3 linked regions of the Homo sapiens genome follow. Each later gene encodes a partner of the first gene's protein in a complex. Each region holds a gene or a part of one and is shown on either strand. Other genes may lie near its edges.

Region 1 (11,121 bases):
GCCTGGCAACAAAGGGAGACTCCGTCTGAAAAAAAAAAAAAAAAAAAAAGTAAAGGAATAAAAGAATGTCTACTCTACAGGCAGAGGGGTTATTTCTTGATTATATGCTAAACAAGGGTGGATTGTTTGTGAGTTTTCTGGGAAAGGGATGGGCAATTTCCCCTCTCCCCCAGTTGAGTGCTCCTCCCCTTTGTAGACCATATAGGGTAACTTCTGGTTGTTTCCATGGCATCTGTAAACTGTCATGGTGCTGATGGGAGTGTCTTTTAGCATGTGAATCCATTATAGTTAGCATATAATGAGCAGTGAGGGTGACCAGAGGTCACTTTTGTTGCCATCTTGGTTTTGGTGGGATTTGACCGGCTTCTTTACCACTGTTTGATCACCAAGGTCTTTGTAATCTGTGTCTCATGTTGATCTTTTTTTTTTTTTTTGAGGCGGAGGTTTGTTCTGTTGCTCAGGCTGGAGTGCAGTGGTGCGATCTCAGCTCGCTGCAACCTCTACCTTCTGGGTTCAAACAATTCTGCCTCAGCCTCCCAAGTACCTGGGACTACAGGCGCGCGCCACCACGCCGGGCTAATTTTTGTATTTTTAGTAGAGACAGAGTTTCACCACGTTGGCCAGGCTGGTCTCGAACTCCTGATCTCAGGTAATCCACCCACCTCAGCCTCCCAAAGTGCTGGGATTACAGGCATGAGCCACCGTGCCCAGCCCTTGTGTCGATCTTCTATCTCATCCTGTGACTAAGAATGGCTAGCCTCCTGGGAATGCAGCCCAGTAGGTCTAAGCCTCTTTTTACCCAGCCCCTATTTAAGATGGAGTTGCTCTGGTTCGAAAGCCTCTGACAGTATCTTATTATACTGTGTAGGCTGGTCTTGAGCTCCTGGCTTCAAGAGATCCTCTTGCCTCAGCCTCCCAAAGTGGTGGGATTACAGGTGAGAGCCACCATACCTGGCCCTTTCCCTCATCTCTAATTCCTGGCAACCACTAAACTAGTCTATCCTCTATGTCTATACTTTTGTTATTAATATTTCACAAATGTTAAATGCAATAATACAATAGATAACTTTTTATGTTTGGCTTTTCTTCAGTCAGCATAATTCCCTTGAAATCTATCCAAGGGAATTATGTATATTGCATGTATTAATAGTTTGTTATTTTTTTCTATTGTTGAGTAGCATTCCACAGTATGGATGTAGCATAGTTTGTTTAACCATTCACATGATGAAAGACATTTGGGTTGTTTCCAGTTTTTGGTTATTACAAATAAAGCTGCAATGAACATTTGCGCACAGGTTTTTGTGTGAACAGAGCATAAGTTTTCATTCCTGTTGGATAAACGCCCAACAGTGCAATGGCTGGGTCATATGGTAAGCACATGTTTAGTTTTTTAAGAAACTATCGGCCGGGCGCGGTGGCTCACGCCTGTAATCCCAGCACTTTGGGAGGCCGAGACGGGCGGATCACGAGGTCAGGAGATCGAGACCATCCTGGCTAACACGGTGAAACCCCGTCTCTACTAAAAATACAAAAATTAGCCGGGCATGGTAGCGCGCCCCTGTAGTCCCAGCTACACGGGAGGCTGAGGCAGGAGAATGGCGTGAACCCGGGAGGCGGAGCTTGCAGTGAGTCGAGATCGCGCCACTGCACTCCAGCCTGGGCGACAGAGCGAAACTCCGTCTCAAAAAAAAAAAAAAAAAAAAAAAAAGAAACTATCAAACTTTTTCAGAGTGGCTGTACAATTTTATATTCCTACCAGTAATGTGGATCCAGTTTCTATACCTCCTTAATAGCGTTTGGTGTATCACTACTTTCATTTTAGCATTCTGATAGGCATGTAGTAATATCCGATTTTGGTTTTAGTTTGAATTTCCCTGGTGGCTAATGATGTTGAACATCTTTTCATGTGCTTTCTTGCCTCTGTATATCCTGTTCAATGAAATGTCTATTCATGTCTTTTGCCCATTTTCTAATTGGATTTTTTTAACCTGTTGAGCGTTCAGAGTTCTTCAAATATTCAAACCTTCAAATGAAGAGAAGGCCTTTATCTGATATGTGGTTTGGAAATATTTCCTTCCACTCTAGCTTGTTTTTTCGTCCTCTTCAAAAGGTCTTTCACAGGACAAAGGTTTTAAATTTCTTTTCTGCAGGGCACAGTGGCTCACGCCTATAATCCCAGCACTCTGTGAGGCCAAGGTGGGCGGATCACCTGAGGTCAGGAGTTTGAGACCAGCCTGGCCAACATGGTGAAACCCCGTCTCTACTAAAAATACAAAAATTAGCCGGGCGTGGTGGTGCACGCCTGTAGTCCCAGCTACTCGGGAGGCTGAGGCAGGAGAATCACTTGAACGTGGGAGGCAGAGGTTGCAGTGAGCTGAGATCCGCCAAGGCACTCCAGCCTGGGTGACAGAGCAAGACTGCATCTCAATAAATAAATAAACAAATAAATAAATAAAGGCCGAGCACGGTGGCTCATGCCTGTAATCCCTGCACTTTGGTAGGCCGAGGCAGATGGAACACTTGAGGTCAGGAGTTCGATACCAGCCTGGCCAGCATAGTGAAAACCCGTCTCTACTAAAAATACAAAAATTAGGGCCAGGCGCGGTGGCTCATGCCTGTAATCTCAGCACTTTGGGAGGCTGAGGCGGGCGGATCACGAGGTCAAGAGTTTGAGACCAACCTGGCCAACATGGTGAAACCCCGTCTCTCCTAAAAATACAAAAAGTAGCCGGGTGTGGTGGTGGGCACCTGTAATCCCAGCTGCTCGGGAGGCTGGGGCAGGAGATTCGCTTGAACCCGGGAGGCGGAGGTTGCAGTGAGCCGAGATCGCACCACTGCACTCCACCCTGGGCGACCTGGCAAGGCTCCGTCTCAAAAAAAAAAAAAAAAAAAGAAAAAGAAAATACCGGGCGTGGTGGCAGACGCCTGTAGTCCCAGCTACGCGGGAAGCTGAGTCACGAGAATCGCTTGAACCCGGATGGCGGAGTTTGCAATGAACCGACATCGTGCAACTGCGCTCCGGCCTGGGCGCCAAAGCGATACTCGGTCTCAAAAAGAAAAAAAAGAAAACAGGAGAATAATGAAATTTTACTTATTTATTTTATTTATTTTTTATTTTTTTGAGACCGAGTCTCGCTCTGTCACCCAGGCTGGAGTGCCCTGGCGCAATCTCGGCTCACTGCAACCTCTGCCTCCCGGGTTCAAGCGATTCTCCTGCCTCAGCCTCCCGAGTAGCTGGGACTACAGGCGCCTGCAACCACGCCCGGCTCATTTTTGTATGTTTAGTAGAGACGGGGTTTCACTATGTTGCCCGGGCTGGTCTCGAATTCCTGAGCTCAAGTGATCCTCCCGCCGCTGCTTTCCAGCGTGCTGGGATTACAGGCGTGAGCCACCGCGCTCGGCCAAAAGTTTTAAATTTCAGTAAGTTCCAATTTATCAACTTTTTCCCTGTATAGATTGGTCTTTTGGTGTCGTCTAAAAACTATTTGCCTGGCCCTAGGTCCTGAGGATTTTTTTTAACTTTTTTTTTCCCCATAAGTGATTTATTGTTTTACATTTAAATCTATGATTCATTTTGAGTAAATTTTGTATAAGGTGAGAGGTTTAGGTTGAGGTTCTTTGGGTCTATATTCGTCCAATTGCTCCAGCATCATTTGTTGAAACGGCTCCTGATTCCATTTTTGTACCTTTCCCCCGTTCATTTCCCCTTAGAGCAGTGGGAATGTTTTTTTGTTAGTGATGATGTCATGCCTTGTGCAAAATCTGTATTAGCATCTCACAACATAAGATTTGGCTCTATTCTAACGGCATTTTCCACCACTCGATGTCCACCGTAATACTTGGCTCTCGAAGAATCACTGGGCTGGCTCCCTCACTTCATGCAGGTCTATTCTATTATCACTTACTCAGAGATTTCTCTGGCCTTTTCTTCACAGCACTTACAAAATGCGATCTATTACATATTAATTTGCTTATTTGCTTCTTGTTTTCCTATACTCCCATCCCTCCCAGAAGCTCCAAGAGAGCATACTGTTTTATCCCTAGGGCCTAGAATAATGCGTCCACGTAGTAGGTACTCAAAATTTTTTGCTTGACAGGCTAGAAAAGGTGAATAAACACAAAGCGGGAGCGAAAAGTCTACTTCTAGGTCAGGCACTCTTTGGACTTCACGCAACGTGTGAGCGCCACCTCTCGGGAAGCCAATTTGCTCGCGAACGAAGGAAGTGAGTCAGAGAACCCGGGGGTGGAGAGAAGAAAGCAAGCAGCTAACCGGAAAGGTCTGAAAAAGCTAGCGCCGGAAGTTAAACTGCAGAAAGTTGTTCCCTAGAATGACTGCCTACTCCCAAGAGGAAGCGTGGGCGAGCGGTGTTCTGCAAAATGGGCTCTCCGGCAGCGGATCTGCGCAGAAGCGTTCCGTGCGTGCAAGTGCTGCGAACCACGTGGGTCCCGGGCGCGTTTCGGGTGCTGGCGGCTGCAGCCGGAGTTCAAACCTAAGCAGCTGGAAGGGTAAGAGGTGTTCGGGATCCTGAGAGGAAAAAGAAAGGAGTGTAGTCGCGGGAGTGGGTTAGGTGAGGAGTTAGTGAAGAGATGAGTTCAGCTCTAAGAGGCGGCGAGGAGGATCGGATGGGAGGAGGGGCAGGGAGCGCCTGTGGACAAGTGCAGACCGGTCGGCGCACGTCCCACGCCACGTGGACTCGCCTTTGTCGGTGGCCGCCTTTCTCGTCAGGCCGCGACGACAGGGCTGTGCCTTATTTGTGTCTGTCGAGAGCAGTGCCGGGCACGGAGTTGGCGCTCTGTAAGTGCTTGCTGAATAAATGACGGGTGTGTGTGTCATTCATTCAGCAAGCACTGAGTGCTTACTGTTGTGTCACCGGGACCGATGTGGAGGGACATTTTTAGGGTGTATTTCTGGCGCTTTAGTCCTGTTTTCTCCTGGACAATTTATGCTTGCCCCGCACCCCATCGTGCGATTCTCCGCAGTCTTTGGGCTTTGTCTCTCTCTCTTTTTTTTTTTTTGGAAGTTGCAGAATGGTGATAAATGATTTTCTTTGCTCCTATTGACTGCTAGGCCCTGTGGCTAGGTACCATAGAGTCTCTACACAGGACTAAGTCAGCCTGGTGTGCAGGGGAGGCAGACACACAAACAGAAAATTGGACTACAGTGCTAAGATGCTGTAAGAAGAGGTTAACTAAAGGACAGGAAGATGGGGCCAAGAGATGGTGCTACTGTCTACTTTAGGGATCGTCTTTCAAGGCGAGGGGCCTCCTATCTCAAGCTGTGATACAGGGTAGGTCATGAGCGCAGTCTTCTGTAAAATGAGGGATCTGGACGGAATAGTTACTCTCTAGGCTTCCTTTCAGTATGATGTCCCGTATCAGATATTCCTAATGTCTGTAGTTCTCCCACACCCCACCGTTTATTGGCTAGTCAAAATATTCTTTGCATTGTAAAGTGTAGCATAACATTACAAGAATGGATTAATGGGTTGGGAATGCTGGGTTTTGGCCTTCATTCTGGTGCTGTGGTCCTGTTTCCTCATTTGTAAAATGAAGGGGGTTGTAAAGATATATTCTCTAAAACCCCTAATGCTATGGCTGTGGCATTAAGTCAAACTATTATTTCTTACTGCTTTGTACCGGACATCACTTTCACATTAGTAAAACTTTTCATCAGTGTAGTTTCTCCCAAGCTTGATTATTGAGAAAGATAGTGCCTTGTTTTTAACATCCTGTATCCTAGTTCCACCGCAGTGTTTGGTACACAGTAGATGTTTAAAAGAAGCTTATTAAATCAAATGGTGGCCAGGCTCATGGGGCTCACGCCTTTAATCCCAGCACTTTGGGAGGCTGAGGTGGGCAGATTACTTGAGGTCAGGAGTTGGAGACCAGCCTGGCCAACATGGTGAAACCCCATCTCTAGTAAAAAAAAATACAGAAATTAGCTGGGTGTGGTGGCACGCACCTGTAGTCCCAGCTATTTAGGAGGTTGAGGTAGGAGAATTGCTTGCCTGGGAAGTGGAGGTTGCAGTGAGCCAAGGTCGCACCACTGCACTCCATCCTGGGCGAAAGAGCAAGACTCCATACCAAAAAAAAAAAAAAAAATCAAATGGGGCTGGGTGTGGTGGCTCATGGCCATAATCCCAGCACTTTGGTAGGCTGAGGTGGGCAGATCACTTGAGGACAAGAGTTCGAGACCAGCGTGGGCAACATAGCGAAACCCCATCTCTAAAAAAACCCCACAAAAACCAAAACAAATGAAAATAAAATAAATCAAATGGGATAGAAATTATAGTCCTTGCTTTTGGATCCTTTCCCACATTGACATATTAGTTCATAGATCAGGGGACTGGGGAGGAATTGGGTTTTTACCAGAGGGAGACCTGGAGCTGACCTGACAGATTTAAACCAGCTTTATGGGATAATCCGCTTGAGACGGATGACGCTGTAGGCAAGTGATTCACTGCTGTTTCATTCCTCTACCTGCCTATCCCCAGAACCATGGCCAACTGTGAGCGTACCTTCATTGCGATCAAACCAGATGGGGTCCAGCGGGGTCTTGTGGGAGAGATTATCAAGCGTTTTGAGCAGAAAGGATTCCGCCTTGTTGGTCTGAAATTCATGCAAGTAAGTGGACTTCATTGTTCCCATTTTGATTCCTTCATAGTATAGGAGAACACTGTGATTAACCTGTTTCTCCCCGTCTTTCTTATTTAAAGTTCTCCACGGTAGAGTGAACACAAGTGTCTTGAGACCTGGAAACTCCTCAGTGCCCTAGCGTTTGGCTACATCTTGGAACAAACCAAGTTATTTAGGATTTTCCAAAATAGTCTCTGTAATAGGAGGTGCATTGCTACGGGAAAAGCAGTGCAGAGTTCCACATATGACTGCATCTCTGTAATTTCTGACTGAGAGCTGAGCATGTTTGAGTTCTTGGTCTTGAGCTTCCTGAGCAGATAATTTTAGAGAGATTTTTTTCCCCCTTTGAGACAGGTTGTTTTTTAGCAAGAAAGTCTTTCCATCATCAATTACTAGACACTAATAAATGCTTATTGTTTAGCATATATTAGGTATCATAGGAGCTGGTGGAGGAAAACTATGGTTTTGGTTTTGGGGAGGTTCTTCAGAAACAGCAGAGAGCAGATGTACCTGCAAGCTACTTACAAAGCAATCTTTTGATAAATGCAAAGGATTGATTGACCAATAACCCTTCTTCAAACAAATTCTAGAGATAATCCAAATTCTCGGCTGGGTGAGGCATAGTGGCTCATACCTGTAATCCCAGCACTTTGGGAAGCCAAGGCAGGCTGGTCACTTGAGGTCAGGAGTTCAAGACCAGCCTGGCCAACATTGTGAAACCCCGTCTCTACTAAAAATACAAAAATTAGCTGGGCATCAGGGTGGGTGCCTGTAATCCCAGCTATTCGGCAGGCTGAGACATAAGAATTGCTTGAACCAGCCAGGTGCGGTGGCTCATACCTGTAATCCTAGCATTTTGGGAGGCTGAGGCGGGCGGATCACCTGAGGTCAGGAGTTCGAGACAGCCTGACCAATATGATGAAACCCCGTCTCTACTAAAAATACAAAAATTAGCCAGGCGTGGTGGCATGCGCCTGTAATCCCAGCTACTCGGGAGGCTGAGACAGGAGAATCGCTTGAACTGGGGAGGTGGAGGTTGCAGTGACCGAGATCGCATCATTGCACTCCAGCCTGTGCAACAAGAGCAAAACTCCATCTCCAAAAAAAAAAAAAAAAAAGAATTGCTTTTGAACCCAGGAGGCGGAGGTTTCAGTGAGCCGATATTGCACCACACTGCAGCCTGGGCAACAGAGGGAGGGAGACTCTGTCTCAAAAAAAAAAAAAGAATTCCAATTCTCAAATCAAATAGGGGATAGTATGTTTTCTAAAAGGGAATCAATTTTGGACCCTTCTAGTGCATTTTAAAATTTAGTTTGACTTGCAATTTACTTCCTATGTGATATTTTAGAAAAACTGCTTTAGGGCTGGCACAGTGACTCGCCTGTCATCCCAGCACTTTGGGAGGCTCCGTCTCCAAAAAAAAAGAAAAAAAAGAAAAGAAAAACTGCTTTAATGTAAAAGAGGGTAGACTGATGTTCATGCTGAGAGGAGAATATGGTGTCCAAGGTCAAGGAGCTGGCATCTAATGAAGGTTTTCTTGCTGTATCATCCCATGACAGAATGGAATAGCAAGAGAGTGCAAGAGTGAGAGAGAGCAAGAGGGGGCTGATGTTGATTTTATAACAAACCCACTCCTGAGATAAGACATTAATCTGTTCATGAGGGTGAAGCCCTCATGACCTAAACACCTCCCATTAGGCCTCACCTCCCAACATTGTTGCATCGAGGATTAAATTTCCAACATACGAACTTTGGGGGACACATTCAGATCACAGCAGAAGGTAACATGAGATGGATGTGTTGTTGATCAGGCATTTACCATATGCTGGGCACATATGTTTTCTGATTTAGTCTTCATGCCAGCCTTGAGAAGTACTTACTCCTGTTCTCGTGGTTGTTAGTGATGAGCAACCTAAGGCTTGGAGAGGTTCAGTGATGTGCCTGATAGCATACAGTGATGCCACTGGAATTTTAACTTGAGTCTCTCTGACCCCTGAGTGCAGATACTTTCTCCTTTACATTGAATTTCCTATTAAGGATATATGGGTTTGGTGAAGAATGGACGGAAGGATAGCTGCCATGACTCTAAAGGGGCATTTAAATCTGGTGTGGAGGCAGGAAGCAAGGGAGAACTTGAGGTTCCCAACCCCCAAGCCCTTAAAAAAAGCCCGTGATCTGTTTTGCAGACTAAAGATAATCAGTTAGGGCCTGGCGTGGTGGCTCACACCTGTAATCCCAGCATTTTGGGAGGTCAAGGTGGGTGGATCATCTGAGGTCAGGAGATGGAGACCAGCCTGGCCAACGTGGTGAAACCCCGTCTCTACTAAAAATACAAAATTTAGCTGGGTGTGATGGCGCATGCCTGTAGTCCCAGCTACCAGGGAGGCTGAGGCGAGAGGATGGCTTGAACTCGGGAGGTGGAGGTTGCAGTGAGCGGAGATCGAGCCACTGCACTCCAGCCTGGGTAACAGAGCAAGACCCTGTCTCAAAAAAAGATAATTAGCCGGGTGTAGTGGTGCACACCTGTAGTCCTAGCTACTGAGAATCTGAGGCAAGAGGATTGCTTGAGCCTGGGAGTTTGAGGCCGCAGTGAGCTATGATCATGCCATTGCACTCCAGCCTGGGTGACAGAAAGACCCTGTCTCAAAACAAACAACAAAACCAACAAAAAGATAATTGGAACCAATTAATAGAATTAAAAAAGTATTCTGATAAGGGAAGGTCACCTCAGGGTCTGTTAGACTTCCACAACAAAAGTCTTCCATTTGGATAGGAAAGGACAGGGCGAGGGTTGGATCCCTACCACGGAGTGATTATATGGCCATGTAATTTTACTTTGGCAAGTGATGATAACTGGTGGCTGAATGATGGGGCTTCTGGGCAGCCAGTCTCCACATCTGTGTGTGTCTCTGATGTGTGTGATATGCGTCATACAGTGCAGTACCACAGAGCTGGAAAAACCATGGGACCCTGTTAGATTTTAACAAGCGTATATGCAGTACAAGAGAGAACACAGCCAAACTGAGTTGAAACTGCTAAGCAGATGGTTTGTTCTCTAGCTAACTTGATTCGTTCCCACATATTAGCCTTGCAGTATGAGAGGTTCTAATTCATTTTTCAGCAAAATTATTTATTACTAGATGTCATGCACTTTTGGGTGATTTGCAGATACCTTTGGTAATCACATGGTCATCACTGCTGGGCTTTTATCCTCTGAATAAACGTGAAGCATCCCTGGGTAATGGCCTGGTTTAGTTTGCTGCTCATTAAATGCCAAGACTTGCTTCCTGGTGTCCTTCTAACATTTTATTTGGGGTTTGCTCTGGGAATGGAAATTTATTGTATTGTTGATTTTCCTGTCTAAAATGAGATAGTTGAGGGCCAGGCATGGTGGGTCACGCCTGTAAGCCCAGCACTTTGGGAGGCGGAGGCTGGAGGATCACTTGAGTCCAGGAGTTTGAGACCAGCCTGGGCAACATAGTGAGACCCTATCTCTACAAATAATTTTTTAAAATTAGCCAGGTATGGCTGGGCGCGGTGGCTTACGCCCGTAGTCCCGGCCCTTTGGGAGGCCAAGGCAGGCAGATCACCTGCGGTCACCTGAGACCAGCCTGGCCAACATGGCGAAACCCTGTTTCTACTAAAAATACAAAAATTGGCCAGGCATGATGGCCGCCACCTGTAATCCCAGCTACTTGGGAGGCTGAGGCAGGAGAATCACTTGAACCCAGGAGGTGGAGGTTGCAGTAAGTCAGGATCACGCCACTGCACTCCAGCCTGGGTGACAGAGGGAGACTCTGTCTCAAAATAAATAAATAAATAAATAAAATTAGCCAAGTCTGGTAGTGTGTGTCTACAGTCCTACCTACTCGGGAGTCTGAGGCAGGAGGATCACTTGAGCCCAGGAGTTTGATTTTTTTTTAAATGAGATAGCTGGATTTAATTTTAATGTTCTGTGGTTTTATTATCAGTCAGTGCCAATAGGGAGACAACTGATATAAAATTGGAGAAGTACATTTAGTCCTGTCACTGCTCCCTTCCAGTGTGGAGAATGAATTGGGTTATAACAGAATCAGTGAGCCCAACCGCTCATGTTTTACATAGCAGGGTGGATGAGGGGAAATTAAATGGATTATATGTCCTTAGATGGTTTGGGGGTTATTCTCATTCTCTGTCCTGTTGAATAGGCTTCCGAAGATCTTCTCAAGGAACACTACGTTGACCTGAAGGACCGTCCATTCTTTGCCGGCCTGGTGAAATACATGCACTCAGGGCCGGTAGTTGCCATGGTGAGTGTGCCTGTGTGGGATACTCCAAGTATGCATTGCTTGTCATCTGTGCTAGGCTCTCTTCTAGACACTGGGGATACAGCCATGAATGAGACCAAATAGATACCTGTTTTCATATACCAGCTAATGGTTAGTGATAGGCTTCAGAAATGAAATATGCCCAGAAATGAATAGGAGTAGCAAATGATCACTTTAG
Region 2 (10,104 bases), on another chromosome or scaffold:
CAGCTGGACACAGCACTGCAGTGTAGTGTGGGCAGTGGGATCAGGCAGACTCAGGACTCAAGTGCCCAGCAGGGGCCCAGCTCATAGTGGCTGTTTTTTTTTGTTGTTGTTTATTTGTTTGTTTTTGTTTTTGTTTTGAGACGAAGTTTTGCTCTTGTTGTCCAAGCTGGAGTGCAGTGGTGCGATCTCGGCTCACTGCAACCTCCACTTCCCAGGTTCAAGCAGTTCTCCTGCCTCAGCCTCCTGAGACGCTGAGATTACAGGCACCTGCCACCACACCTGGCTAATTTTTTATATTTTTAGTAGAGACAGGGTTTCACCATGTTGGCCAGGCTTGTCTCAAATGCCGGACCTCAGGTGATCCACCTGCCTTGGCCTGCCAAAGTGCAAGGATTACAGGCGTGAGCCACCGGGCCCAGCCTTGGTTATTTGTTTAATAATTGTTAAATGAATGAATCCCAGGCTGGGCACAGTGGCTCCTGCCTGTAATCTCAGCACTTTGGGAGGCCAAGGTGGGAGGATCACTTGAGCCCAGGAGTTTGAGACCAGCGTGGGCAACAAAGCAAGACTCCCAGCTCTACAATTTTTTTTTTTTTAATTAGCCAGGCATGGTGGCAGTGAGCTATGACCATGCCACTGCACTCCAGCCTAGGTGACAGAGTGAGACCCTATCTCAAAGAATCCCAGAAACCATGTTTTTACTGGTGGTAGACACACCATTATTCCACTCCTGTTGAGCTTGTCCACAGGGACATTCAAAACACAGCCACAGCTGGGCATTTATCTATTTCATGTACTGGGGCTCTTCATAAAATTTCATTTAAAGAGGTTCTTAGGGGCTGGGCATGGTGGCTCACGCCTGTAATCCCAGCACTTTAGGAAGCCGAGGTGGGTGGATCACGAGGTCAGGAGATCGAGACCATCCTGGCTAACATGGTGAAACCCCGTCTCTACTAAAAATACAAAAAAGTAGCTGGGCGTGGTGGCAGGCACCTGTAGTCCCAGCTACTCGGGAGGCTGAGGCAGGAGAATCGCTTGAACCCTGGAGGCGGAGGTTGCAGTGAGCTGAGTTTGCGCCACTGCACTCCAGCCTGGGTGACAGAGCGAGACTCAGTTTCAAAAAAAAAAAGTTCTTAACGCTATCAAAAAATAACTTGGAAACCACTGTGGTGTACATAAAAGTGGATTTTCCTTGCAGTACCTTCTGCAAGTGGCAGATATTGGACATCTTACAGCCCAATAATGAAACCAGGTAATAACCATGTTAAAATTCCAGCTTCCCACAAAGGGCTGCACACCCTGGCAACTAAAAAGCATTGAACTTTTTGTCTGCTGTGCAGGATTTGCCCTAAAGTGAGTTCACCCCACATAGTGAGACCTTGCTTCCTAAGGACACACTGAGGGATATCTTGACCTTCTGTGCTTAGAAACTGCAGATGTCTGAAGGGGTACACACCTGGCCAGACCCCATAGAGTGTTTCAGAATTGCCCTCCTCCCCACCCACCAGGCCAGTCCATCGTGCTCCCCCAGGCTATGTGGGTTGAGCAAACAGCAGCAGTTGCCTTGGGGCTTGGTTTATTGGGGTAATAGCTTTCCTTTTGCCCCTGAGACCTGGGGCAGTATGCCCAGAACCCCTCCCTCCTGCACACCCCACAGTAGGCACATTCTCCCACTGGCAGCAGATGTGTTTTCTGGCAAGTAGAGAAAATGGCTTTCCTTGCCCTGTGAGAGGTCTCATAAGATCCAGCCATAGCCAAGGCCATGTTTGTCACCTCTGGAGGCCTGGTCAGTCCTTCTGTGGGCACAGAACATTTCTCTCCCACCTAAGTTAGGACCTGCATCCCTGTTTGGGAGCATGTGGAAGCCAGGCATCCCAGATCCAGGAGGTCATCCCACTTCCTGGGCGATGCTACACCAGATAAGGGCCTGTCCTCTCAGCTGCAGCAGTCTTGCAGTGGAAGTGCCCACTTGTTCACATGAAACAAGTTTCATAGCAAGTAAGTAGGGGTCAGGCCAGCACTGAAACCCAAGTCTGGCTGAACCAACTCACCTGTTCATACTGACTTGCTCAATTTTCTGTTACCTCTAGTGGAGTGTGAAGGTAGGTTATGGAGCTGGGGTTGGGGAGTGTCACGTCTCTCTGGGTCCCTGTCTTTTAGGTTCCAGTGTGTGTTCCAAGTGCTGCCAAAGTGCCTCAGCCCAGAGACACCCCTGCCTAGCGTGCTGCTGGCTGTTGAGCTCCTCTCCCTGCTGGCGGACCACGACCAGCTGGCACCTCAGCTCTGTTCCCACTCAGGTAAAGCAGGGTGGGGCGGGCGTCTAGACTGCTCCTGCAGATCAAGGGAAGGGTTGGGGTGGGAACAGGGTCAAGGGCCTCAGAGGGCTTCTGCAGTATGTAGCCCACGCTCTTTATGAGAAAGGGCACCCTGAGTGAGAGGTGCGCTGTCCTTTTCAGAAGGCTGCCTCCTGCTGCTGCTGTACATGTACATCACATCACGGCCTGACAGAGTGGCCTTGGAGACACAATGGCTCCAGCTGGAACAAGAGGTAAAAACTCCAGAGCCCCTTCTGGACACTGTCCCCACCCCATCCTAAGAACCAACAGAATCTCCTTTCTTTCCGCTGAGGAGAAACGGAGCTTTAATTCATTTTAGTAACAAGAGTTGATAAAGCAACTAAAGAGGTAAACTCAGTTTGGGGGCTGTGCACCACACAGATGCAATGCAGACAGGACTTGGCAGAGTTGCCTGATGACTGATCCTGTCTTGGCTTTGGGACGTGGGGGCAGAATAGGGGGCTGGAGGCAGGTGGGTTGCTGGTGACACATGAGTGCTTGTCCTGGGTCTTCCCTGGGAAGGTCCCACACCACTTCTTGGACCCCATTTGTGCAGACAAACAGTTGCTGAAGCAAGTGAACTCTTATAGAAGCTTAAGAAAACCCTCGCAGGGACTGGTCTCCTTCTGCCCAGGATGGAACCAATCTGTTCTTGTTCTAGGTGGTGTGGCTCCTGGCTAAGCTTGGTGTGCAGAGCCCCTTGCCCCCAGTCACTGGCTCCAACTGCCAGTGTAATGTGGAGGTGAGTGGGTAGGGGCCAACAGCTGGCAGCTCTGGTGGTAAGGGGGCCCCGTGCAAGGACTGTAGGCCCCACTGCAAACCCCCTCACGTGAGGTGGCTAGGCTGAGCGGATTGTTAGGGTGCAGGCCATGGTGGCACCAGGCCTCAGTCTGCACCCCCCCTCTCTCAGGTGGTCAGAGCGCTCACGGTGATGTTGCACAGACAGTGGCTGACAGTGCGGAGGGCAGGGGGACCCCCAAGGACCGACCAGCAGAGGCGGACAGTGCGCTGTCTGCGGGACACGGTGCTGCTGCTGCACGGCCTATCGCAGAAGGACAAGCTCTTCATGATGCACTGCGTGGAGGTCCTGCATCAGTTTGACCAGGTGATGCCGGGGGTCAGCATGCTCATCCGAGGGCTTCCTGATGTGACGGACTGTGAAGGTAAGCCTGCCAGAGGCCATCCTGCCCAGCCCCCATGGCTTCTTCCAGAGGTTCCCCAACAAGTCAGATTCCTGGGTGTCCCCTCAGCAGGCCCCCGCCCACTGCAGCCTGTTCCAGCACTGGGGCCATTTTCTTTTATCTTCCTGCCTCAGTTCTTCTCCAAGCATATTGGGATGCCTTTTGCATCTATCTGTTGAGTGTGCCTGGCAGAGCCACGGTTTTTCCAGAAATAGCCGTGTCTGAATTGCCTTTGTATCACTTTGTTTGCAGTAGCTGAGGGAGCAGGGCCTGGGTGTGGAAGGGACTGGTTAGTTCCTGCGGACGTTGGGGGAGGAGAGGTGGGACCTGCCCTAGGCCCTGGCACCTTTGGGCCCTCACCAGGAACCTCTCCTTTTTGTCTCAGAGGCAGCCCTGGATGACCTCTGTGCCGCGGAAACCGATGTGGAAGACCCCGAGGTGGAGTGTGGCTGAGGCCCTGAGTGTCCAGCCACATGGTGGCACCAGCACCACTCCTTTCCTTACCACATCAACTGATTAAAGCAGTGACCAGCAGGAACTGCCCAGAGAACTGGCTGGCCTTGTTTCCTGAGTCTGATCTGTTTGGCGGAGTGGGAGGGGTGGAGCAGGACCCGGACCCTGAGTGGCTGGGATCCTTCTTCCTGTCCCTGGCTGTTGCTGAGCCCGTCCCCATGGTAACTGATCTGCCTTGAGGAAGGAGCCCTGCCCTGCCTGTGGAATTGTCCTGAGTCATTGCTTTGGGCTGGGGCCATGGGAAGAAACCATTGTGTGGCAGGGAAGGAGGTGGCTCTTGGCCCAGGCCTAAACCAGGAAAGCCTGGGAAACTGGGACCCACAGGTGGGCATGAAAGGGCCGCAGCAGGGGCTCCCAGCAGTGTGTAAGACCGGGAGCTGGTCTGGCACCACTGCCCTGGTCCTTCCAGCTGCCTGTCACTGGTATGATGGCCCCGGTGCATTGTGCCACCAGCAGGCCACAGCTGTGGATCTTGGAAGGCCTCTGGGGTCCCCCGGGAGCAGGGGAGTGGGTGTGGGGGGGAACGGATGGTGGTGAGAGGGACAGACCAGGCAGGCTGACGAGCAGGGCGGGCCTGGCTCACGTGGGCCTGTAGGCGGGCCCACGCCAAGTTTCACTTCCCGCCACTGCTGCCAGCGAGAGCCGCGGGAGAGTGTGCAGCCGAGTCACTACTGCCTGCCTGCCTGCCTGCTACGGTGAGTGTGGCCCCCACAATGGGATGGCGCAGGGCAGGAGGGCCATGGGTTCCCCCACCCCAGACTAAGGGGGCACTAGGGGAGGGGCCGAGTCATGTGAAGAGGGAGACCCTCTCAGACAGTCGAATGTGCTGGTCCCACTAAGGAAACCACCTCACCCTCTCCAACTTCCTGCCTGAAAATGGGCCCTGGAGCTCGCAGACAGGGCAGGATTGTGCAGGGAAGGCCTGAGATGTGCTTCTGCCCACCCCCTACCCCACTCCCTCCCCTTCGGATCTTAACACTGGGCACTCACACACCCACCCCATGCTCCTCTCCAGGCTCAGCAGCAGGTACGTACCCAACCATGGGCTCGCAGGCCCTGCCCCCGGGGCCCATGCAGACCCTCATCTTTTTCGACATGGAGGCCACTGGCTTGCCCTTCTCCCAGCCCAAGGTCACGGAGCTGTGCCTGCTGGCTGTCCACAGATGTGCCCTGGAGAGCCCCCCCACCTCTCAGGGGCCACCTCCCACAGTTCCTCCACCACCGCGTGTGGTAGACAAGCTCTCCCTGTGTGTGGCTCCGGGGAAGGCCTGCAGCCCTGCAGCCAGCGAGATCACAGGTCTGAGCACAGCTGTGCTGGCAGCGCATGGGCGTCAATGTTTTGATGACAACCTGGCCAACCTGCTCCTAGCCTTCCTGCGGCGCCAGCCACAGCCCTGGTGCCTGGTGGCACACAATGGTGACCGCTACGACTTCCCCCTGCTCCAAGCAGAGCTGGCTATGCTGGGCCTCACCAGTGCTCTGGATGGTGCCTTCTGTGTGGATAGCATCACTGCGCTGAAGGCCCTGGAGCGAGCAAGCAGCCCCTCAGAACACGGCCCAAGGAAGAGCTATAGCCTAGGCAGCATCTACACTCGCCTGTATGGGCAGTCCCCTCCAGACTCGCACACGGCTGAGGGTGATGTCCTGGCCCTGCTCAGCATCTGTCAGTGGAGACCACAGGCCCTGCTGCGGTGGGTGGATGCTCACGCCAGGCCTTTCGGCACCATCAGGCCCATGTATGGGGTCACAGCCTCTGCTAGGACCAAGCCAAGACCATCTGCTGTCACAACCACTGCACACCTGGCCACAACCAGGAACACTAGTCCCAGCCTTGGAGAGAGCAGGGGTACCAAGGATCTTCCTCCAGTGAAGGACCCTGGAGCCCTATCCAGGGAGGGGCTGCTGGCCCCACTGGGTCTGCTGGCCATCCTGACCTTGGCAGTAGCCACACTGTATGGACTATCCCTGGCCACACCTGGGGAGTAGGCCAAGAAGGAAAATCTGACGAATAAAGACCCCCGCTGCCCCATAGCACTGAGTGGTCAATTGGCTCCTACCCTTCTTGGCAGCACAGACCTCTGCCCACACCCAGGGACCTGGGGAGGAGGGCACAGTGTTTGTCCCTCACTTTCCCTAGCAGGATGGTCAACTATCTGAGCCCAGTAAAAGTAGGGAAAACACAGAGAAGCCCAAATGGATGGAAAGAGTACAGCCTGATTCCAATTCCAGCAGCCGAGGCCAGGAAGAAAGGGGGCAGCAGCTCCAAACGATTGCATTTATTATAAACAAGTGTACAGACCCTAGACTCAGAAACACAACAGATTTGAGCTAAGACAGCTCTGGTGAAACAGTAATAGAGGGAGGAGGAACACGAGGTATTCATGTCTGGGCCAGAGCTGCCATCCAGGGCCCCACACCCCACCTTTGGTCCAGATGGCCCATTGGCCCAGGTGTCCCTGCTGCCAGAACACCGTGGACTGGGGTACAGGAGTTGTTGCATATTCCATGAGGCTGGTGTCGGGAAGCAGGGACTCACAGTTGCCAGGTTGTCCATCTCTGAGCCAATTTCCCTCCACAACCCAGGGGTTTCAGTCTCATATCAACTATCATGTTTGAAACAGAAAACAGGCAAAATGTTTGGCTAAAATAAAATGAAAACACTGCAGGGAAGAGAACTGAGTGTGCTGGTGGACAGGAGCCCTGCTCACCTGTGGGAAGGGCAGGGCCAGCAAGGGCAGCAGAGCTCCCTGGGGGCAGCTAGGCTGTGTGTGCATGTGGCCCTCCAGCTGGTCCCAGGGGAGATGCGGGGACAGGGGACAGTCCAGGCAGACAGGTACAGCTGAGTAGGGCTCTGCCTGAGGTGTTCTGGCATCAGGAGGCTGCCTGATCCCCAACAGGCATGACAGGCTCCAGGGAGCAATGGGACATCTGCCCAAAGGATCAAAGTCCAACTTGGCCAGATCCCAAGCTTCGCCTGCATCATGTCCCTGGCTCTGCAACGGGTACCCCCAACTCCGGGGACGAGCCATGGCCTCAAGCAGCAGCTGGCTACGCTGCCGAAACCAGGACACATCTGCATCACACAGAAAGCTGCGCCACCCTGGTGTGACAGGCCCTACTTGGTCACCCTAGGGTAAGCTGGAGAAGAACTCCAGATGTGCCCTGGAGAGGCCCCCACCTCTCAGGGGCCACCTCACAGGGTGCCCCCCACCACCCCATTCTTTGAGTTTGGCTTGAGATTTTAGGAAGCATAATTTCAGGTGAGGAAGAGAACAAAGTCTGGTCCCAGCCCACTCTGGCAAGGATTGTTCCCCACCTTGTCAGCATCAGAGGAAGCCACATATACAGGCAGGACACACACAGCACACATGGGGCGTAAGGAACCGTGCCTGGACACACACAGCACACATGGGGCGTAAGGAACCGCGCCTGCACACCACTCACGCACACACACAACATAACCAAGTGGCAGCCAGAGAGGCCAGGGAATGCTCAGAGGGCCGCCTTCGGGGCATCCATGTAGGCCGGGTTGTAAGGAGGCTGGCTGGCGGGGTAGGGCGCGGCTGCTCCTCCTGAAAGCAGAGAGGACCCTGGTTGGCTGTGAGCATGGTGGGCTGCCGTGTGAGTGGCAGGCAAGCAGAAAGGGGCAGAGGCCTGTTGAGTGATGTAGTTTGGGATGGGTGCCCGAGGGATGCTGGCAGAGACTCGGGAAGTCGGGCAGGGCTAGAGTTGGCAGGGGCACTCACCAGCCAGGGTCTCGTGGTAGGCCGGTGGGCCCATGGGCTGGGCTGGGTAAGGTGGTGGGTACTGCATTGGGTAGGGTGCTGCTGGCATCCCTGGCTGAGGCGGCATGGTGTGGTAGCCCTGGTAGCTTGGTCCAGGGTAGCTGGGCGGCACACTTGGAGGCTGAGGATAAGGGGCATGCACCACAGTGGTGGATGTGGTGGTGGTGACAACCGCTGCAAAGAGAATTCCAGTCAGGACCCTCCTCCATCTCCCCAGGTCTTGAGAGCCAGGCTTGCCACCCATCCCTCCAGCTTAGCCAAAGCAGGGCCTGGTCAGCTTCCCTTACCACCCCAGGGGGTCACAGTGGGGCAGGGTGGGCACGCTTACGACGTGGTCGGCGGCACGTCTTGTAAAGGCAGCAGCAGGAGCAGGTGAAGCAGATGATGATAGTGACGACAGACAGCACAAAGATGGTCAGGCCAACGGCCAAGGTCGCTCCGAACCTGCCAAAGAGCTAGACGTGACCCGGGGCACCTCGCCCCTCCCCAGACCAGCATCCACACCTTCCCAAGGCATGCCCCTCTTGCCAGAAGGGGTCTGGGCAATACAGTTATAGCTACTTCCTTGTCGGGTGGCCTGCACCTGTTTCAATCTGTTTCCTCTTGTGTAAACTGGGGTATATGTGAGTCCCTGTAACTGTCTCTCCCTGGGTCTCCCCCGCTTGTCCCACCCTCAGAGGCATGGGAGGAAGCTCTTCAAGTCCCATGCCACACACATACATCTATCTTGTCCACCTCACAACCAACTGATCAGCAGATGGGTATAGGGCACATGCCACAAGCCAGGCACTGTGATTTGAGTCAAAAAACTTAACAGTGGGCAAGACAGCCAGCCCTGGCCTCTGGGAGCCCACAGTCCAGTGTAGGAGGCAGACAGTGAAGATAACATGGCTCACAAAGCACAGGGTGAAGACTGAGAGAAGCCCCAGGAGGGCAGAGGCCAGTGTGGCCAGAACAGGAGGCCCCCATTGTTCCCCTGCACTCCACAACAGCCCCAGGGCAGGGAGGCTGGCCCCTGAGTGATAAGGACAGTTGCCTCTGCCTGCAAGCTTGCTGTATGCCAAGCACCGTGCCAGGGGTCACACACACCCCTGGGTCCCCCACCTCTGACCTGCATGGCCACTTCCACAGGTGAGAGGGCCAAGAGCCAAGGGGAGGACACAGAGGCCTGGAGGCAGGAGGCCAGAGGGCCTGCCCTTTGAGAAAGCAGGCCCTGGGCTGGGAAGCTCACCAAAATTGACTTCTAGGAGGGGGCAGTGGCTCATGCCTGCAATCTCAGCACTTTGGGAGGCCGAGGAGGGCGGATCACCTGAGGTGAGGTGTTCGAGACCAGCCTGGCCAACATGGTGAAACCCTGTCTCTACTAAAAATACAAAAATTAGTCGGGCACGGTGGCGGGTGCCTGTAATCCCAGCTACTTGGGAGGCTGAGGCAGGAGAATCGCTTGAACCCGAGAGGCAGAGGTTGCATTCAGCCAAGATCACGCCATTGCACTCCAGCCTGGGGACAGGAGCAAAACTCTGTCTCAAAAATGAAAGAAAAAAAAAAAAACCTGACTTCCAAATGCAGACAGAGCCCCTTACTAGCCACCCTGCCGTGTTTGCAGAGGCCAAGCTTCATTCTTTTTCTTTTTTAATTTATTTTTTGAGACAGGGTCTCACTCTGTTGCCCAGGCTGGAGTGCAGTGATATGATCACAGTTCACTGCAGCCTCCACCTCCCAGGCTCAAGTGATTCTCCCACCTCAGCCTCCCCAGTAGCTGGAACCACAGGCATGCACTACCACATTTATTTTTGCAGAGACAGGGGTCTCACTATGTTACCTAACTGGTTTCCAACTCCTGGCCTCAAGCAATCTTCCCTCCTCGGCCTCTCAAAGTGCTGAGATTAAAACTGTCTCGTGGCCAGGGTGCGGTGGCTCATGCCTGTAATCCCAGCACTTTGGGAGGCCGAGATGGGCGGATCACAAGGTTAGCAGTTTGAGACCAGCTTGGTCAACATGGTGAAACCCCGTCTCTACTAAAAATTAGCCGGTAGTCCCAACTACTCAGGAGGCTGAGGCAGGAGAATCGCTTGAACCCAGGAGGTGGAGGTTGTAGTGAGCCAAGATCGCACCACTGCACTCCAGCCTGGGGGACAGAGTGAGACTCTGTCTCAAAAAAAAAAAAAAAAAAAAAAAAGTCAGCCTTACATTTTGTACTGGATGATAAAAGATTTTAAAAAATAAAAAACGGTTGGGTGCGGTGGCTCACACCTGTAATCCCAGTACTTTGGGAGGCCGAGGCAGGTG
Region 3 (10,583 bases), on another chromosome or scaffold:
GTTTTTTATTTCAATGTGATGTAATTAATTTGGACCCAAGCTCTGGGATGGACAGCTCTGAAAGCTCAAGCAGATGTCTTTCCAATGGTATTGAAGAAGGGGGCCAGGCACGCTGGCTCACACCTGTAATCCCAGCGCTTTGGGATGCCAAGGTGGGCAGATCACTTGAGTCCAGGAGTTTGAGACCAGCCTGGGCAACACGGCAAAACCCCGTCTCTACAAAAATTATAAAATAAATAAATAAAAAAGGAAACAAGTCTCATACTGCTATGGGGAAAGAAAAAAAAAAAGAAAGATGGCCAACTGTGTAAGTCTAGAGTAAGCCACCTTGAGAGGCTGGTGGTGCAGCAGCAGCAGGAAAGAGGGAATTGGGGCTGTGGTGTGCTGTCATAACACAGGCTGCTGTTATGGGGACTAGGATTTGTCCCCTTGAATTTATCTCCTCCTCCCCTTGACCTGGCCAATTTTATAACCATTCCTTCCGTTCATTAGCTCAGGCACAAGACGCTAGAGGGAAAAACTTCTGAAACTCAAAGCCACTATGCTGCTGGTTCATTCCCCAGGAAACACGCATGGTAGAAAAGCAGCAGGCCAAAAACTAGAGATTCCAGGATTATCTGTCATTTTCAAAGATCTGGGCTCTGAAAGGCTGATGTGAGCCACTGGGTGCACAGCTGCCCCGCCTTTGGTTCAAGCCTCAAAGCTCTAACCGTTGCAACCCAAAGCTCTTTCTATCTCTGAGATGACATCTAGAACCTAAGAGTGACCATTCAACTACAAGATACACAGAAGGCTTTGACATGTTCTGAGTACACAACGAAGAATTTCAGCTGGCTATACAGAACTCTAGACGAGAAGTGCTTCATACTAAACCAGTAACAAGGATAATTTCTCTTCCTATGGAGGTTCCTGGGTTGAGGCTGATTTCCACTAGGCACCAATTACTTACAGGGCACAGAACACATAAAAGGACTTAAAAAGACCCTGAGAGTACCACCCAAATATATGGCTTGCCATTTGCTTAAACAAAGCAAAACACTAGATCCCTGGGGCCCACCCTCCAATCTACTGAACCACCTTTTCAGCAAACCTCTTCTGCAAAGGGGGCAGATAGTAAACTTTATCAAGAGCCAAAATTAAGAACACTACATAGGGACTTTTATAACAAGAGAAAAATCTAACACATTTCCACAATTCTTTTATTGATAAAGTTCAGAATATATTGAGTACAATTTTTTTTTTGTAACGAGATCTGTTAACGAGACAAGTGGATTTCTTATTTTTTGGGAGAATAACATTTCAAGTCATTGGGATTCAAAGAGTGTTCCATACCATCAAATTGACTGCAACGTTTATATGTACAAATAATTCTTAGCTCATGACTGTACAAAAATTGGGAGCTCAGTTATAGTTTGGTGATTGCTGTGGTACTCCTGTGATTGGGGTGGAGCCCAGGAATCTGCATTTTACATGCCTCTCACGTGATTCTGGTAATGGGCCATGGACCCAATGGACTATCCAATCCTCGGAATCTCTGTCCACCAAAGGGGCCTGTGGTTTTGCAGTGCGAGAACCCGGCTGTGCCACCTACCAGTTGCTCAACCTCTCCAAAAATCAGATGATTCATCCTCACAACAGGGGTGGCATTGCACTGCTTGGCCTACCCTTAAAGAGTTGCTGGGATGATTAAGTGAGATGATCCATGAGGTGCTATGAGCATACTATGTCCCAGATACTAAAGACATGCCAGTTATGTTGAGTTTTTTTGGCTGCAGATGCAGACTGCCTGAGCAGCTCCTGCTTGTCTTCTCCTTACTCAAAATGTGTCCCCCAGCACCTTGAAGGCCAGATCCACTTCAACCTAACCCACTGTGATGTGCTAAAGCAAACTCAGTGCAAGGCTTCATAAAATGATAATCCACAGCCCCTGGTCCTGAACCTCCTGGCCCTCTAATATCTCCAACCAGGATGCTATCCACTCTTCATTTCAGCGTCTTCAATAATAGAAAACTCATTCTCTTTCTACGGTGGCACCACTCCAAAGCTGGAGAAGAAAAAGCTCTTCCTTACAGTATCTTAAGAAAAAAAGGGTGTTTCAAAGGAGGCAGTAGAGTGTAGAGGTTGAGTATGCAGACTGGCTGAGTTTGAATCCTGGTTCTGCCACTCACTGGTCACATGATAACCCCTGTATGCCTCAATTTCCATATGCACAATGACGATGATAATAATAATACCTACCTCATAGTGCTGTTGTGGGGACTAAATTAGTTGATACATGTAATCCACTTAAGAAATGTGCCAGACACAGCGTGGTTGCTATGTAAGCACTAGCTAATATTGTTATTATCCTAAACCATGGAGGAGCTCAAAGTAATGCCTGGAAGCACCCTGATATGTCTCCGAGACTAAAACTGTCATATAGACAGCATATACTGAGGGCCATATCAAACCAATTTTGTCATCATTTACTGATTAAATAGGATTATTCCGTTTTACAGGTGAAGAAACAAAGCTTCAAAAAGGTAGGTTAAGCTCACCAGCCCAAGGTCACAAGGGCAGGTAAACGTATCCTACCTCCTTGTGGCAGGAGGAATTCAAACCCAGGTCTGTGTAATTCCTAAGCCCATCTTCATCATGGAGCCCCTCAGACTCGAAACTACTATCAGCAGCAGAACTCAACTGACTATGACCACAGGGGAACTCAGGCTCAATTTTCTGCCTGCGAGTTCCTGGTTGGCTTGCATAAACTGTAGTTAATATCATGCTACTTGAACCCAATTAGGCAGTAAGTCAGCCTGGAAAACATCATGCGATGTATTCCAAAGGTCAAAGTAAAAGCTGGCTTCCAAGGCAGCCTCTGCTGGACACTGCCATGAAAGTTAGTTTCTGCACAGATACCAGAGTTCAGCTCGTGAGGTGCTTAACCAGCACCTATATCGGCTTTTTAAAATTCTCAGAGATGCCAGCATCGGAGGACCCGACGCGACGAATTGCCTGGCTCCTAAGTCAACATCCGGAGAAAGGCGGTTTACTTTTTTCAAAAGCAAACCTTCATCCCTCTCTTTCGCTTTAGGATCTCATTACTATTGTAGCTGCCTTCTCCCAGGCAAAAATAAAAGGGGGAAGGAGCAGGTTTAGACCGAGGAGGAGGGTTCCCCTAGCCTGCAGGGCGCTGCAACATCCACCTGAAACACGGAGCTCGACCTACCTTCCCGGAGAGCCCAGCCCGGGAGGGCGTTTCCCCAACGGATCGACAACTCTTCCCTCCCGGGGAACAGGCTGCTGTCCTTGGCTTCAGTCAGGGCCACTAGAGTCGCGTGCGCGACACCCCTCACCCCCGCCAAAAGAACCTCATGTTTAATGTTCCCCTTACTCTATCACTTCCGCCGAAAGAGCAAACACCAGAGCGATCGGTTAGTCCTTAAGGCCACATTTAACTACGTCTGAGCGCCTGCAGGAGGAACGGCGAAACCCCGGAGAGGAGGCGGGGGAGGCAGGGAGCGCGTGGGGGGGGGCATTTGCACAGAGGATCGTCGTCCTCCCGGCGCCGCGGCCGCCGTGACTCTCCAGCACAGCCTCAGGCCGTTGGCGCGGGGCGGAAACCCCCATCGGGGCTCATAGCACAACTGGGGGTCCCCAAAGCCGGCTCCCCCTGCCTCCTCCGCGCGGGAGGCCGTCGGGGTGATGGCGCAAGACTCCGCTCCCCCCGCCCCCCACAGCGACAACAGCCACGGTGACAAAATGGCAGCCCGGCGCCCGGCAGTCGTGCCACAGGCGCGCAGGGCCCTGGAGGCGGCTCCTGCCCCCCAGTAACGCCTCGGCGCCCTTCGGGCTCAGCCCCGAGTGGGCCTAGCCGTTAAAAAAAATAAATAAATAAAAATAAATAAATAAAACACCTGGAACTCAAAACCAGCCTAGAAAGCCACAAGGCCGGCCCCGCGCGTACTGCACCCCCGCCGCCCGCCTGCCAGCGCCCCGCGCCACATGGAGCCCGGAGCCCGCATTCCGAGCCCTGCGCCCCGCGCCGGGGAGGAGGGGCGGGGCGTGCGGCGCGAGCCCCGGGAAACATGGCTGCTCGTCCTATTTCGGCGTCGCGGCATGGCCACCAGCTCCCGGAGCCCAGTTGGGAGAGGTGCCGAAGGTGGGTGTGTGGGGGGCCCAGGGGCAGCGCGGCGGGGAGGGGCGCAGGGGGCGCGCTCCGGGAGCCATTTGTCTTAAGAACGTTTAAAAAAATACAGTTCCTCCTCCCCCAACCCTTTTGTCCCTCTTTCGCTAGCTTTCTCCCCCTCCCCCGCAAATGTGCAGAAAGTGCCCCCTCCTCCGCCACCCGCGCCCCACCCCGCCTCCAGGCAGGGGGCAGGCGTGTGGGCCGCGAGGCTGGGAGGCGAGGGGGCGAAGCGTGAGAAATCGCTCCCAGTACGGCGCGGTGCGCTCCCCTCCCCAACACACACACACACTCGTGGAAGTTTAAAGAGCCGGTTCGACCCGCTTTCCTGCTTGCTCCCGGGGGGCCGGCAGCGTCGGTCGGGTTCGCCAGGCCAGCCGCGCCCCCGCACCCACCCGCGGCGACCCCGGCCCCGCGCTTGGCGCCCTTCCCCCTCCGCGCAGGGGGCTTCCGGAAAGTACGCGGGAAGACCGCGGCCCCGGCCCCCTCCCCCATCACCACACCCAGCCCCCAAACGCTAGGCGCCGGGTCCCGGCCGGGACGAAAGCGGCCGGAGAGAGGCAAACCGCCCGCAAATAGTGCGCGGAAACTCCGGCCTCCACCGGCGGCGCCCCCTCCTCTCCCGCGGCCGCCCCCTCCCCGCCCTGCGCGCCATAAGGCACTCGCACGTCTCCAGTCCACAGCTGCGTTAAGGCGGGGAGGGGGTAGACAAAAAGGATCTTGTTTTCAAAAGTCTCACTCAGGTTTGGGGGAGGAACTAGGGAAAAGAGGAAGCGAGGCCTGCCTTCGCCGGGATTCGGGTTTAACGGGCTAGAGGGGCGACAGGCCAGCGCACGGTGCTGCCCAAACTCCCAACTCCATGGAGCTCGGGCCACCGAGACTGGGGGCGTCCTCCCGCCAGCGCGTCCCCGGTCCCCCCAAGGGGCCAAGAGGGGAGCTGGCCAGGGTCTCCGCCCCAGAGCCGCCAACTCGCCGAAAACACTCAGGTTTGAAAGCGAGAGGGAGGCAGAAATAAAAACCAGCGTTCGAGTCACCCACCCTCACCTTCCCCCTCCTCAGGGGTAAGCTTTCGCTCGAGCCTCGCGATTCCCACCCGTGTAAGTTTCCTCCGGCCGTGCTCCCGCCGCTGCCCAATCAATAACGGCGGCTAGCGGGCAAACTCCCATCCTAGAGCTGCGTGTTTGCCATGCCCGCATAAACGTGGACCCAGCCAGTACCCACCACGGGCGCCAGCTCCGGGCAGCTCGCGTCCTGACAAAGTTTCCCGTGCCCATTTATTAAGCAGGCGCCGAATGGCTGCCGACAAGCCCAGCACTGAGAAAGACGGGCCGGGGGTTCGAGCTGGGGGGCACCAGGGCCCAAAGGCTGGCATCTTGGGGAAGCCGGAAGGAGCTGGGGCGAGGGGGCACCGGGACGTAGCCTTTGGGCAACTTGCACCAGCGATCGCTGGAGGCAGGGAGACGCGGGGATTATCTGTGCCTTAGCACGTTCGAAAATCCCTCCCCCTCCTTCTAATTTATCCTCCCTTCGGAAGGAAAGGAAGAAACATCAGCATCTGGCCCGAAGGTGGGGTGGAAAGAGTGAGGGAGAAAGAGGAGGAGAGGAAGGGAGGCAGAGAAAGGGAGGGAGGGAGAGAAAGGGCGCGTTCACGAACACTACAAAGTTACAAATATGGCTCCCCCGTCTCTCGCCTCATCACTGCAAAGAAATGAAGACGCACTTTAAACTCCAGCCATTCCCAACTCCGCTGCAGCCCCCTCCCCACGCGCTCTCCCCGGGGGCCTCGGCCCACATTTATCAGAAACTAAACCGGACTCGCGAAGCCCCAAACTTATTGTGTGTGCGAGCGAGCGAGCGAGAGAAAGGGAGGGGGGAGGCGCGGGAGGGGGGCGGAAGGGGGGATACATTTATAAAATGTAAAACCCCCTTTTTTTGTTGTTAAATCCAGGAGGCAGCCCCTCTCCTCCTCCTCCCTCGTTAATCTTCCCCCCAGACGGAGTCACGGGAGCAGCGATCTCCGAGGGTGATTTCGCCTCATTCTCTCCGACCCAAACGCGTGCGCCCGCCGGCCCCCGATGGGTGCACACTCGCACGCACACTCTCGCACCCACACTCGCACACGCGGGAGCACACGCACAGGTAGTCACACACCAAGGGCAGCGGCGGCGGCAGCCGGAACATGCTCGGATGGCATTGCAACCCCCCAGCCTTGCCAATTCGCTTGCAGTCCGACCCCCAAACCCGCACCTCCCGGGCGCCCCCCCCCAAAAAAAGTGCCTCCCCCCAGCGCGCACACACACACACACACACAAAGTAGGAGAATGGACCGACAGAGATATTTTTGGCAAATGCTCACATCAGAGGGCGTCCTGTTCCGCAGCTCTAAATGAATCCGTCTGCCCATCTCCATCTCTCGCGCTCTCTCTCTGCAGAGGCTCCCGCGCCGGCGGAATTCAATCAATAAACCCCGAACCCACGGCCGCGCGTTTTAGGACTTTGAAGGCTCAACCAGCTCCGCTCGGTTCTCGAGCCCCCAGCACCCGCGGCGCACACTAACCTGATCGCCGTGGAGGCGGGATCTGCGGCCCCATGGACGAGCGGCAGCGGCCCGAGCCAATCGCCGCCGAGGGTCTCCGGGCAACAGCCAATGGCAGTGGCGGCGGGGGGGGGAAGGGACCAATGGGCGGGCTGCGCAGCCGGCCAGGGAGGCTCGGCCATTTGGTAGTGGTGCCGGAGACGGACCCCTTTAGATTTCGGGGCGGCTGAGGAGCGCGGCGGCTGCTCTGTGGCTGAGTGAGGGGGGTGGGCGGAATGGCGGGGGAAGGGAAGGTGACTGTGCCTCGAGGGCCGAGCCGCCCGGCCTTGCCAGCCAGCCGCCGCCTCAGCGTTCGGCCGGGGGCGGGGCCGCAGGTGCGTTCTGCGAGGGGGAGGGGCGCGGCCGGAGGGGTCGGGTCGGGGTCCCCGCCCGGCCGAGGGCTTCGCGGGGCGGCGCGACGGGGTTGCGGAAGGAGGCGGGCGGCTTGAGGTCCGGGGACCGCGGGCTGCCCAGCGGGAGGGCAGATGAAAGGCCTGGAAGGAGGAGAGGGGTCAGGGTGCAATGCCGGGAGGGGCTCGTCGGGTCCCGGGTCCGGCGGCTCGCGCTGGGGAGCGTGGCTGCCCCCGTCACCCCCACCGCGGCTGCCCAGCAGCCCGCGCGCCCCTTCCCCTCCGGCCTCGTCCCTGTCAGGCCGCCACCATCGCCACCCTCGTATACATAAGTCAGTAAAAGCAAGATGCTTCCACTTTTGGATGACTTACCGCGCGGTCGCGACCCTTCCCACGAAGAGGCTTTTCACTTTGCTGTCATATTAGGTCAGCTTGGAAGAAGTGATCACCAAGAGACACCCAAGATCTTGTTTAGGCAATAAATGAATGAAGACCATGGATTAAGAACCGTTGCTAGATATGTAGAATATTAAAAGGTGGAAAAGGAAGGTGCTCATAACTCCTGGTTTTCTGGACCAAACATAATTTCTGGGCTTTATAGACCTAGTGAAAGAGAACGGCGCACGGTTTATTCTAATCGTCCACCTGAGTCATTCGGTTCGGTTTGGGTTGCCAAGGAGGCTCTAACTGGAGCCCTTTCTCCTGGTTTTTCGGCGTGGTTGCCTTGGGTATTTTTGAATCACATTAAGTTTTAAGAGACCTTAAAGCCCCGATGCCCACTGGGTTACCGACTTACGGCACTAAGTTGGCTGCCTGTGGCTGTTAATAAACCACGGGGATTGTTGTCAACGAGGACAGATACATCCTTACCTTTCCACACGACTGTATTTTAGTGTTTGTTTCTACATGTCTGCACTCTTCCCCACACGCCTCAAGGTAGTTTTTCTGGATACATATGTTTATTTTTCAGGAACAGGAGTTCAAAGGAGAGATAAGCCAGTATGTATGTTGCAAAGTTAAAATACTGTTGCATAATAGCAATCCAGTTTCATTCTTAGACATACGAAGTTGAGGAGGAAATAAAAAGTGACAATGTAAATAAAACACATACAGAATGCTTACACTGGGGAAGAAGCTGTAGTAACTTTAATATTGCAACCTGATGGATTGCAAGTGTAAAGCCCTGCAACTAAGGATTTTACTCAGTAAATTCTTTCAGATAAAATGATAAATGGAATTTGAAGTCTGATGTTTACTCTGATTAGGTGGGAAATGCACCATAAAAGTTAGAAGTCATTGTTTTATTTTATCTGGGTATAAATAGTATAATTTATTTAACTTGTTGACTTGCCTGTCATCCTCAGATTTTGTTAATCTTATTGAAGCCTATTTGTATAGTTGGAATTTATTCTAAGTTTTATTGGCTTCTTTGTAATACATGAGGAACCCCAAATTTCCTATTTATGCCATTGAGACAGTTGTTATTTCTGGATATGGTGTTTAGGATTGTATTCAAACAGAACTCTTATCAAAACAGGTCAATATGGTGTGTATGATCTGTGTAACATAGGAGTCCTGAAGTTTGTGTTCTCTTTGATGGTAAATGTTCATTTTCAATTTAAAAGTTTAACCACAGTTAAGACCACGCTGCTAGCAATGCAATATGAGACAGTGTCTTTCCAGAGGAGTAATCCCTTAAAAACCAACCAATCAAATGCAGAGATATGCCCCATCCAGCTTTGCTAAATAGAAGCAAATAGCTCACTTTATTGTACAAAGACTCAAGAGGAAGACTTAGAAGCCCACCCCCTCCCCCATTAAAGAGAAAGTACAGAAACAAATTAGAATCGAAAAAATCATGGCCTGATTACTAAATCAAAACGTTAAATGTGACAGTTGTTTTTAGAAGCATCTTACATTTATACATTTTGATGACTTTTGTATTAATGTTAGAAAATTGAAAGAAGGCTTCACTGGATGTCAGTCGTTACAGAAATTGAAATATCCAAAAGTATATGTATAACCAATTGAGTAATTTCCGCTTTCCTTACACACTTGAAATAAATTTTCTTTTGCTTTTACAAATAGATCTATATGTAAGAAAATTTTCATATGATTTTGCTTTTTTATTATTAAAAAAGGAATATAGTAAAGCCAAAGCTGAGCTGTATTTGCCCCACACAACATGACCAAATATAAAAAAAACCACTGCTCTTACAAATATCTTATTTTACAAAGTTGTTTTTTAAATTACATTTTATTGTATATTATAATAGTAAATAAGTGTTCTAAGTGGCACTGCATTTCAGAAAATATAGAAAGAAATCCCATATCAAGGAATCTTGGCTGAATTTTGAAACGGAGTTGGGAACAGGTAAGAGTTCCTATCTACTGAGTAATTCTACAACAGGAATTGTGTTTGAAAGATGTAGAGTCTCTAACCTCTGAAACTAGGTTTGAGTCACACTGAGAAGAATAAATGAGATACAATTCAAAGTTTAACCCCCTAGAGAGATAGATGGCCCAGGAAGGAAAGATCTTCCCGCCTTCCAGAATATCCTCCATCAAGAACCATTCCAAATAAATGAGCAGCCTATTTTGTTCTCAAAGACATGAACAATGAGTGTCCTTAGGCTCTTTTGAAATGTGTAGGAGAGTACTGTTTTACAAATAACCATATCGTTACTATTGCCATTTTATTAGGTTGGTGCAAAAGTAATTACCATTTTTTTTAAAAAAGGCAAAACCACAATTACTTTTGCACCAATAGCACATTTGCCCTTGTTTGGTCTCTAAAGATGGAGACCCTTTGGTTAGCATCCTTTTTATGAGTCAAGCTAATATACCCACAGCTCAACTTTTTGTTCTTGAGCTTGAATCACATCACTGGCAATCGGCCGTAGTACTCTCTTACCTACATCATGGTTCTGCTGCTTGGACCCCAAAGACAATGACATGGAAAAACTCCAGCTTAATTATGTTCTTTTTTGTTTGTATATGTAAATAGTTTTTAGGAATGTAGATTATTATTTTGAAATCTGTGGTAACAAATGTGAAAACCACTACATTTTATTTATTTTCATTGAATAGCAAATAATGTTGAAGCCTGGGATCTAAAAAGTTAAATATTATTTTATTTTGCTTAATAAAGTATTGGATAATTTAGAAAAAGAATTTTTTTTTAATGATTGGATAGTTACCTTATTAATGGATTGGTCAGGGAGAAAAAGCCCTGTTGGATGAAAACTGTCATATATGTGACTTTTAAAGTGAAATTAATAAGCCAGGCATGGTGATGTTCCCCTGTAGGCCCAGCTACTTGGGAGGCTGAAGTGAAAGGATCACTTGAGCCCAAGAGTTCAAGAACAGCTCGGACAACATAGCAAGACCTGTTTCTCTAAAAACAAAAAACAGTAAAAATCTTAAAAACCGCTTAAAGATGGTTGGTTTCTTTTAAAAAGGAAAAAAAGGCTCAGGTGCAGTGGCTCACGCC

What was found.
Region 2: NME1 (region 1) and TREX1 share a complex: the UniProt entries of both Homo sapiens proteins name them as parts of the SET complex.
Region 3: NME1 (region 1) and ANP32A share a complex: the UniProt entries of both Homo sapiens proteins name them as parts of the SET complex.

Annotation. Positions count from the first base shown.
Region 1 is NC_000017.11:51,149,157-51,160,277, forward strand, and holds the start of NME1 (nucleoside diphosphate kinase A), read left to right. Parts: upstream 1-4,402; 5' UTR 4,403-4,506; intron 4,507-5,068; exon of another isoform or gene 5,069-5,217; coding exon of another isoform or gene 5,218-5,288; intron 5,289-6,494; coding exon of another isoform or gene 6,495-6,498; coding exon 6,499-6,624; intron 6,625-10,823; coding exon 10,824-10,925; intron 10,926-11,121. Other genes in the region: NME1-NME2 protein, read left to right, coding at 6,499-6,624, 10,824-10,925. UniProt on the Homo sapiens protein: Major role in the synthesis of nucleoside triphosphates other than ATP. The ATP gamma phosphate is transferred to the NDP beta phosphate via a ping-pong mechanism, using a phosphorylated active-site intermediate.
Region 2 is NC_000003.12:48,461,585-48,471,688, forward strand, and holds TREX1 (three-prime repair exonuclease 1), read left to right. Parts: upstream 1-4,645; 5' UTR 4,646-4,725; exon of another isoform or gene 4,726-5,045; 5' UTR 5,046-5,071; coding exon 5,072-6,016; 3' UTR 6,017-6,061; downstream 6,062-10,104. Other genes in the region: ATRIP (ATR-interacting protein), read left to right, coding at 2,161-2,297, 2,457-2,548, 2,998-3,078, 3,247-3,499, 3,903-3,970; SHISA5 (protein shisa-5 isoform a precursor), read right to left, coding at 7,523-7,602, 7,777-7,989, 8,144-8,259. UniProt on the Homo sapiens protein: Major cellular 3'-to-5' DNA exonuclease which digests single-stranded DNA (ssDNA) and double-stranded DNA (dsDNA) with mismatched 3' termini. Prevents cell-intrinsic initiation of autoimmunity.
Region 3 is NC_000015.10:68,814,177-68,824,759, forward strand, and holds the start of ANP32A (acidic leucine-rich nuclear phosphoprotein 32 family member A), read right to left. Parts: upstream 6,720-10,583; 5' UTR 6,576-6,719; coding exon 6,522-6,575; intron 1-6,521. UniProt on the Homo sapiens protein: Multifunctional protein that is involved in the regulation of many processes including tumor suppression, apoptosis, cell cycle progression or transcription. Promotes apoptosis by favouring the activation of caspase-9/CASP9 and allowing apoptosome formation.